2 separate regions of the Homo sapiens genome follow, and region 2 is reported to be linked to region 1. The links are microRNA targets in miRTarBase. Many come from high-throughput screens and were not tested one by one. Region 1 holds a microRNA gene; the other region holds the end of a gene's coding sequence.

Region 1 (5,074 bases):
GATACTAGCTCAACATATTAGATTAAGTGGCATTTTAGCAAACATGAATGAAAGGCACCAAAGGTTTAAGGGGGAATTTAAAACATTAGGTAGCAGCTTGTAGAGGATATATTTAGGGTCATGATGTCCTTCTTGTTGGCCTTAAAAACACTTCCTGCGCCAGGTTCAAGGGTCAATTGGGAACAGGATCAACAGAGGATGAGGGTTTTTTTTTGTTTGTTTTTGTATCATTTTAAGACAAGGTCTCACTCTGTTGCTCAGGCTGGAGTGCGGTGGTACAATCCCAGCTCACTGCAGCCTCCGCCTCCCTGAGCTCAGATGATCCTTCCACCTCTGCCTCCTGGGTAGCTGGGACTGCAGGCACATGTCACCATGCCTGGCTAATTTTTGTATTTTTCGTAGAGATGGGGTTTTGCCATGTTGTCCAGGCTGGTCTTAAACTCCTGGGCTCAAGTGATCTGCCCACCTCAGCCACCGAAAGTGCTGGGATTATAGGTGTCAACCGCCACACCCAACCAAATGAGTTATAAGTTTGTGATCTGTTTTTAGCCTTTGTCCACAACTGTGGGAGTCACCATTCACTCTGTGACATAGGCTCTCAGAATGATGGCTCTCTTGACTGTGGCACTGATCATAGATTTAGAAGCTCCAGTATGGGAGGACCTTAAAAGTCTCCTATCCCAAATAGATTATTTTAAACTAACCCCAGTTCAAGTCCCTGGATAACATACCCAACAAATGGTCTTTTAACTTCTGAGTAAGTTTACTTGGTAACTGGGGACTCCTCCTTGAGTTAGCTTGTCCCTTCTTTTGAGACCTCTTTACAACATTGAGCCCCAAAATGTTTTTCTATAGCTTCAATTCATTCAGCATATTTGTATTGTACCACTACTCAAGAACATTGCTTTATTCTCACTCCTGCATATTCAGCATCTCTCCTCTCTGCTGTCATTTGAGCTGCCAGGCACTGTGCTGGGTAGTGGGGATATGGAGATGAATTAGACACCATCCCCGTCCTCAAGGAGTTCTCAGTCTAGTGAGAGAGATCAACATCTATGTACACATATAATTACAACAATATGGTATGCTCTACAATGGAGGTATGTATAAGATACTCTGGAGTTCAAAGAGAAATCATTTTACAGAGTCTGGAGATGACAGAGCTCAGAGTACCTGGTATATGAGTTGAGTCTTTAAAGAAGTAAAGTCACCTTTTGACTAGGTGAAAAACAGGGAAAGGCTTTCCAAGCAAAAGCATGGACATTGGAAGTAGTATGATGAGTTTGGGGAACTACAAATAGTTCTCTAAATTAGGTTGGAAATGTAGGCCAGGAATAGAACTTTATATGGTATGCCATGGGATTTGGATTTCATTATAAGTGTTTTCAGAAAGGGATGCTTTTAGATGATCACTGGCAGTAGTGTGGGGTGTGTTCAGGAATGTTTTCAAATCTGGACAGGGAGATGAGTTAGAAGGATACTGTGGTGGCTAAGATGAGAAATGATGTAGGGCTGAAAGGAGTGGGAGTGGCGAAGAGGGGATAACCTCTTAGGAAGTTATAAAAATTTAGTCATGCATTGCTTAGCAATGGGGATATGTTCTGAGAAGTGTATTGTTAGGCGATTTTGTCATGTGAACTTCATAGAGTATATTAACACAAACCTCTCTAAATGGTATAGCCTATTACACACCTAGGCTACAAACCTGTACAGCATATGACTGTACTGAATACTGTAGGCAATTATAACAGAATGGTAAGTATTTGTGTACCTAAACATATATAAACATAGAAAAGCTACAGTAAAAATATGATATGATTTTGTGGTGGGACAACTGTGGGACAACTGTCATATATGAGGTTCATCATTGTCCTAAACATTGTTAGGCAGCACATGACTGTATAGACATAATAGAACTTATAGGAAAAGTTATAGAAAAACTTATAGAAAAAGACCTTGATGAAAAATACTGTCATATTCTTTGGATGAATGTTGCAATTAACTCCTTTTAGATCATAACTTGACTGTACAGATTGTGCAAGATTGTTTTCTGGGAACAGCTGTATATGAAATGTTGATTCTCAGGGAGACACCTAGACACCTGAATTGCAGCAGACATTTTATGGTGTTGCTAAGTTGCTGGTCCTTCTCATCAGTAGCAGGCCTACTCTCACTGTCACATATCTCCCACGGTTTTTTTTTTTTTTTTTTTTTTTTTTTTTGTAATTAACCAAAAGTGAAGGCTTTTATATCAAAGACTCAATTGAGGAAGCAGTGGCCTTAGTCATTATTGGCATAATTGCTTTAGTTTGCTTATGGATCTTAAAACGTTTATGACTATATCTGCAAGTAAAAAAAAAATTCAATAATTAAAAACCTAAACATATCGAGTGTTTATTTTCTCTTTTTGCAAAGGTATATTCTAAACTCAATGTTCTTCGGGAAATTTTCCAATTAAGGCTCTGAGTATTGATATTTGGGATTTAGAGAATGGCTTTCTATGACCAGAATGGTTAGTGATGAGATTTTATGTAAGTAGGACTGGGTTTTTCAGGGGGCCTTGTGTAACTTGCCATCAAGAGTTGGGAAAGGAGGCCCTGAGCAGTGCAGCAGAGCTATGTAAAGTGAGAGTTTGGGTCTTGGGACCAGGTAGCCTGGGCTCAAATCTGCTCTCACACTTAGCAATGTGGTCTTGAGCATGATTCTTCACTTCCCCAGGACTCTGTTTTCTCTTATGTAAAATAGGAATAATATTTATTTTCAATGATGGGGGTAAAAAGTACTTAAAGGGACTAATTATGTAAATTGCTTAGAACAGGCCTGGAATATACAGCTAAATGCTGTGTCAACTGTTGTTGCTGATAATGGTGTTGACTATGACAAGTATTAAAAGAAGAGATTTGACTAGAGGTACTTATATTTTGAATGATCAGTGACGATGTTAGGGTTGAGAAAGAAAAACAGTAACTGACTTGAAGGTTTTCAATGGTATGTAAGTGTGAGGTCATTTCACCTTTTATTTCTCTGCCAGGTAGAGTGGGAAACCAAATTAATCACTCCATGATCTAGTGACTAATCTATTGCCTTTGCTTTTAGTTCCAAATAGAAAGCTGTTGAAAAGTTGTTGTATTACACCTGCATAAAGGTTATCCTGAAAACAGAAAAATGCATTAGACTTTGTCAAAACTGGATTTGAAACCTAATTCAACTGCTTGCTGGCTGTGTGACTTAAACTTGTTGAACTTCAGTTTCTTCCTCTAATATAACTATTAATTTTCAGAGTTTCCATGAAGATATTTGTAAAGTGTTTGTCATAGGCACTCTATACATTAATTACAGCTATTATTGTTAGATCTTGGGACACCCAGCACGTGACAAAAACAACAGCAGACCCTGGTGCCTGGGAGGACTTCATGGATCCAGCAGCAACCTGGAGTGGTGCTCCTCTGAAGAAATCCTACTCGGATGGATATAATACAACCTGCTAAGTGTCCTAGCACTTAGCAGGTTGTATTATCATTGTCCGTGTCTATGGCTCTCGTCTACCAGACTTTAAATTCCTTAAGGGCAAGGACAGTGCCTTACTCATCTTTGTATTCACAGTGCCTAATCCGGTGCACATTGTAGGCCTCATTAAATGTTTGTTGAATGAAAAAATGAATCATCAACAGACATTAATTGGGCGCCTGCTCTGTGATCTCCATGGGCTCAGCTTGTCCCCGCCAGTTGCCAACAACGTCCAAGCTCTCTTCAGAATGCTTACTCCTGAAGCTTATTCCTGTCTTCTAATTCTTTTGTTGAGGACTTTTCTGTGTAGTGCAATGATAGCAAATACACTTCATCTCAAGTACCATCTCCAATTGATTGATAATGCCTGCCCTGATTATGTTTTATAACAAGATTCTGAAACCAGGTCTTATCTCAGTGTGAAAGACATTTATAACTATTTAGTGATGTCTGCTGAGGGTCGGAGAAGGGGGAGTAGCAGCACAAGTGCCTCATATGTCATATTTGCTACTCTGTTTTCTATGAAATACTTCATTTCTATGCCTGCATTTTGGTCTTAGCTACTTGCTGATGTTGCATGGCTGTTGCTGCTACTGTAATTGCTGCTAATTGCTCCCTGGGTTGGACCAGAGTGCTCATTGTCTGAACAGAAACCTCATCCTCACAGTCTGAGGTTTGCTCCTGTGGCTGATATTTAAAGTTTTCCCCTTTCAACTTTACTCCAGCTATCCCCTTACCTGCACTGACAGGTAATCCTCCACCGTCCTGTTCACCTCTCACCAGGTTCATATTTTCTTTATCTTATTTATTGTACTTAATCATTATTTTGTGAGAAGCTTTTCTGATTGTAGATGTGACAACCAGAATACAAGTTAAAACCACTTATCCAGCGCCTTACAGTGAATCATTTAACATGAGAAAAAAATTGAGTGTGTTTGCAGACCATGGGGCAGAAGGAATTGAGAAGGGAGTCATTGTAGATGTGAGAAAGAGAGAGATGATAATAGATGGAAGATGATCTTGAAAGATGATGCAGGTGAAGCTGGAAGGGTGAAATTTATGGCTCTAGAACACATGCAGGTGGAGGGTTAGCCTTAGGTAAGTGGAACTACCTCTTTGCTGGAGCACAGAGATAGGGATAGGAGTAAGGAAGAGGACTTGGCAAGGGTGGTGAAGATTTGTAATTGTAGAGGTGGATGATGGGGAGGAAGCTGACCAGGAACAGGAATATGAAGACAAAAGCTGCTGGAACAGAAATACTAGAGGGCTAAATATGAACCAGAGTCCCTAAGGAATATTCAGGCCAAAACGCTGGAGTGAGACCATTAACAGGAGAGCTTATGGTATATCAAAGTAAGAAATGAGTTTGAAACTGGGTTAGAAGCTCAGGAAAATATGAAGTGGTTTTGGGGCATTGTCACTAGCAGTATTTGGTTGCCTTGATTGATTGAGGGGTGGACAGCTAGCAAGAGACGAGTTACACAGAAATGGATTTAAGAATCCAAACTAAGGCCGGGCGCGGTGGCCCACACCTGTAATCACAGCACTTTGGAAGGCCAAGGTGGGC
Region 2 (5,074 bases), not on the chromosome of region 1:
AGCTGATTGGGTAGGTGCCATGCTTATCCACCTGGGAGGTTAGAAAGTTGTTTGGACTCAGAAGGCTTAAAAGGTTAAGTAGCTTAAGGAATCAGAACCAGTAAGTGGCAGAGCCAGAATTCAAGCCCAAGCAGCCTGACTCCTCCCCATGTCCCTGGTTGCCACCATCACCTCCCATTATCACCATCCTGACATCATCTCCCTATCTCTCTCTGCACTCCTTTTATCTTGTTCAGACTGGCCTCTGGGACATACCAGATGCCCTTCTGCCTTGGGGCCTTTGAACCTTCTTTCTTTTTAGAACACTTTTCTCCCAGATGCTTCTCATTCCTTCCCTCCCTTTGAATCCATAAATGTCTCAGTGAATCACATGGTCACCTCTCCTACAGTGGCTGGATGCGCTTTCCATGTGTCCCAGGAAGGCCCAGCCAGGACACGGGAGACAGACTGGGACTGGGTGTGGAGAAACCTTTGAGTCCCTCTGGGCTGGGGTCAGCTGCCCTGTGGAGGCCGGGAAACCAGTGCCTGGGGTGCTTTTGGCACTCCCCAGTCATGTGTGGAATTAGGTGGTACAGTAGTTTCACTTGCATGCCATGCAGTCTTCCCATTCATTGTGGCTGAACATCTGGTGGGTACTCATAAAAATTATATCATGGCCTATGCAGTGCCATGTGGAGCAAAGTGGATGGCTCCATCCTTCACAGGATGACCTTGAGGCTGGAGGGTGAAAGCAAGAAGACTTCCAGCCCCTCAGAATAGTCGTCTCCCCAGGGTCCCATTTCCCGGAGCCCTCAGTAAAAGGGCTGCATCCTCACGGCATGATGGGAAAACCGACTGACTTCAAGAACCTGAAGAAATCACACAGAACACAACAGCACCTCTCCGCACCCTCAGGACCTGGGAACCCTGGTCCTCAGCTCTACAGCTGGTAAGGGCTCATGGTGCCTTTGACTCTAACCTCTTTCATGGTGATTTACAGATCTTGGATGTCTCCTCTGCATGTTCAGGATTCAGATAGCCTGATGAGAAAGGCAGTACTGTTTCCAGATGAGGAAACCAAGGCTCAGATCGCTGGCTGTCTCAGCTTCATCTCACACTAGTGCTTCTCTGAGCCCAGACTTTTGGCTCCAAGAACAGTGCTCCCTCCAACACACTGGGACATCAGCACACAGTCTGTGAGGAACATGTAGTCGGCGGGTGCTTATTGTCAGACTGTGGCTCCAGAATTCAGAAAACCCCATGCTGAATGAATAAGCACTTCAAATTGGTTGGAGATGCATTCCCAAAACACCTCTCAGGGTAAGCCACGATGCTTCCCAACTAGTGCTGCTTCAAGATGTGGCTAAACACCTCCAACAAAATTCTCAGATAGAAAAGGCAAGAGCCATTATATTCATAAGTCAGAATTTATTTCATACCATCTCACTTATAGCATTTTCAAGTACAACATTCTGCTCAACATCATTTACACTTGAAAACAGAAAAGCACAACTTGGTAAGGCACCAGGTTACGATAGTCTGGAGAGAAGGCCTTGCTCCCATTTTGGCTTGTGTAATACCTGGGTAGTTTCTCTTGAGTCTGTCAAGCAGAGAACAAGGTTATAAAAGGTCCATTTATACATACATGGTAACAAGAGATAACAAACAGTTTTGAAGTATGCTGTATTTATAAATTATAATGGTGGCCTACACTTGTAGTTCAGCCAAAGTGGCATTCTCTAAAGCAAAATTCTTATAAAATCTTCTCTGCAATACCAAGCTGCAAGTTTAACAATTTTTTAGCTTTGAAGTGAACCAACTTTATATTTAACTCAAACACATACTTTAAAAACATTTTCGGCCCCAAACTCTATGTTCACGAAGAAATAAAAATGGAGGAAAATCTCAAGTATAATCGTACCTTTACTATTCTATAAAATGCAGCAATATATTTTAAAAACTGTTGCATTTAAAGGTCAACCCACTAGATTTTTAACACTAACAGTCCAAGGTGTTATCAACCCCACTTAAAATTCAACTGTATAAAGCTTTCAGAACTGGGCCACACAGGTGTACTTCACTGAGCACTTTCCACCCATGGCCTAAAGGCAGGAGGTGTGGAAGTCCCCTCCAGGGAGACCAACTGCAGCCCCATACACTGTCACACGCATAAAACTTCTTTCAAGTTTTGTGTTCTATCTTAAAAATGAATTTGCACTATACTCCATGCCATTTACTTTAATATAAAAATAGTGTTTCAAATCGCTTACCAGTTAAATAACTCATCTTCCCTCCCACACCTCCAGGCACCAGACAGGCAGAGCCCAGCCTGGGAAGCCTAGCTTTCCACAGATAGGTAAGCCAGGCGCGGCAAGATGAGACTGTATTCAGTTAGGTCTATTTTAAGCATTTCCACAAATCATTTTATTCCTTCAGGTTGTAACTAAATGCTTCAGGAAACTATGACCGACATCAATTCCAATGTGTTGAATAATCAATCAGTCTATGTATTTTAGTGGTTTAAAGATTAATCTTTTGTTAAACAAAGAAATTTGTTAATTTTATTTACTAACAGGAATAAATAGAACCCCTAACCTAAAGTATAACCTGATCTTTTACTTTTTCTATAGAAAAACACAAACTGGATTTCTTTTTAACATAAAAAAGACAACACAAAACCCACAGAAAAATAAAATTCTTCTATCTAACTGGCTTTACAGATTTCCCTCATTAGTTGTGGATGTGACTTTGGTGGCTCTGGGTCACCCACCGCAAGCCCGACCCTGCAACTGAGTGTTCAGGCTGCCTTGTGGTGTCTCGGAAGCATTCCTACCAGAGTAAAAGCTATTCTCCTGAGATGGCACCTTTTTCTCCAGAAGATTCAGCCCTAACAGCTGCCACCTTGAAGGATGTATTTCACTGTCACAGGAAGCAGCCAAGTATGGGGGCCATGGTCCCGGCATGCACCTGGCTGGCTACACGCCCCGCCCCTCAGGAGTCCTCAGAGTCCACTGGCCTCTGCTGCTACTGCCCTGAAAGCCATCTGTGGCTTTAACTGGTTGTTTTAACAGGTTTCAAGAGATGTTCATTTTATTTTTTGTTTAGATTTAAGATGTCCTAAAAAATGTATATATTAAGATACACTTAAAAACATACTCTGAATATAATAAAAAAGATGTTGGTTCAAAAAAGGGTCAACAAGAAGAGGAAGCCAAGCTTCCTAGCATCTGTTTTTGTGGCCACGCTTTTCCCCATTAATGGTGTGAAAGTCTGAATCAACAGCAAATACAGCCATACAGACCTATGTATCTGTGTGCATGAGTGTGCATGGGTGTGCACACAGAGAAGTACATCTTGGCCGACTTAAGAAAAAATTATCTGTGTTGTGTCCCACAAACACTTGCTGTTGGCCTTTCAAGAGTATTCACCTCCCTGCCGAAGAGACAGCTTGAGTATGGAGGTTTAAAAACAATCCAGACAGGTGCTCCCTGTTGCCCTCGTTACCTAGGATTGAGGCAGTTTGGTGCACGTATTACAGTACCGAAAGCAAATGTCACTTTCTGATCTCCACAGGAACCACTCCCTAAAACATGAAACTACTGACCAACACTTGCTTTCCTCCGCATAGCACTTTGTCTGTGTTCATATGTGTCAACACAACTGGACTAAGAAAGAAAAGTCCCAATAAGGAAGTTTCCTTTTTTGACTACAGAGTGCCATACAGTCAGTGGGATGTTTTCTGTTGGTTGTTTTTAAATCATAAGTAACTGGGTATTAGCAATTGACAAAAGTGACTGGTTTGAGGTTTTGTAGGCAGAGGTCTCTCACTTTTTTTCTCAGATTTTTGCTCCTTAAAAAAAAGGCATGGTTTGCATGGAGTTTCAAAGCTAAGAACTATTGTTACCATGGTTGACCTGTGTACATAATGCACTGTGCATTAAGTAGCCCTTAATCAAGAGAGGGTTAACCATAGTGTTCCTCCCTTTTGCTCTTCTGTACATTATAATGTAGCAGAACTTCATTCTTAACATCCAGATTAGAGGTGTCTTCTTCATATTAGATATAAATTAACCAGAGGTCTAGAACTCTAAATTTCCAGAGATGTGAAAAATGTTTAATTTACTTCAAAAATATCTTGCATAAGTATCTCATCCCTAAGCTCAAACAAACAAGAAAATTAAAGGCAGAAAGAATACATAAAATTGAGAGCTCCTCCTATAATACATATACACACACTCTCGATATAGGTTCTACGCAGTAAAAGGAGTTGTTTCAGCTAATATAGCTTCTAATATCGATTTCATCTGAAAATAGCCTTTCTGGGTGTCTTGCCAGCATCATACGAAACAGCAGTACTTCTTCCACCAGGACTTGGAGAGGTTTTTCATTTTATCTGGAGTCCTGCTTTTAGACTTCTTTGGCTGTTGCTGAGTGTCCGAGTATTGAATGCCAGCGACGATGGCTGCATCAAAGACCTCTTTGAGGTTTTTTTGAGTCAAGGCTGAACACTCGATGTAGGAGGCGGCTTTGATTTCCTCGGCGCACAGCTTAGCCGCCTCTTCAGGCACTGGCTTTTCTTTGCATTTGTCCAACTCAATGAGGACTTTGACATCTTCTCTGAGATCCGACTGCGTTCCAACTAGGATGATGGGGGCTTTGGGACAGTGGCATCGAATCTCCGGCACCCATTTCTCACTGACGTTCTGGAAGGATGAGGGGCTCACGACACTGAAGCAGAGCAGGAAGATGTCTGTGTTGGTGTAGCAGAGAGGCCTCAGCTTGTCAAATTCATCCTGCAACCAAGCAAAGTACCCAAAAGTTATGTTTTCATGAATTCTCATCAGTAAAAAGATCACCTTCACATTTTTCATGAAAGGGTCTGGCAGGTGATAGAAGACCCGCTGGTTCTAGAAGGAAGAGCCAGCATCCTTGAAACGATCCTACTGTTTACCCAAGCGGGGCCAGTGCACCAGCGAAGGTGTGGCAGCCATCTGCTTTCAGGGCCAGCTATGGTCTGAACACTGCCAAACATGTTCAACGTGTTCATCGACACTCAAGACCTACTTACAGCTTAACATAGAAAAAGTGCTCAAAG

Evidence for each region. Region 1 holds the annotated microRNA hsa-miR-374b-5p (AUAUAAUACAACCUGCUAAGUG, at 3,470-3,491, shown strand). A microRNA usually pairs through its seed, bases 2 to 8, with sites in the 3' UTR of a target mRNA and lowers its output. Matches are read on the target gene's strand: a 7mer-m8 pairs with bases 2 to 8, a 7mer-A1 pairs with bases 2 to 7 and ends in A, and an 8mer does both.
Region 2: the mRNA of RHOU is a reported target of hsa-miR-374b-5p. Seed matches in the 3' UTR shown: 7mer-m8 at 4,196-4,202, 7mer-A1 at 3,980-3,986, 7mer-m8 at 3,142-3,148 and 7mer-A1 at 1,674-1,680.

Annotation. Positions count from the first base shown.
Region 1 is chrX:74,217,004-74,222,077 of GRCh38, reverse strand. It overlaps MIR374B (microRNA 374b), which reads left to right and starts at 3,460; the gene lies at 3,460-3,531. The region is part of intron 5 of FTX (FTX transcript, XIST regulator); the gene reads left to right. It overlaps MIR421 (microRNA 421), which reads left to right and starts at 3,617; the gene lies at 3,617-3,701. MIR374C (microRNA 374c) reads right to left here and starts at 3,529; the gene lies at 3,460-3,529.
Region 2 is chr1:228,742,983-228,748,056 of GRCh38, reverse strand. RHOU (ras homolog family member U) reads right to left here. Exons shown (of 3, transcript NM_021205.6): 3 at 1,393-4,772. The coding sequence ends at 4,317. Among named protein-coding and RNA genes, the nearest start is that of RHOU, 10 kb to the right of the region's middle.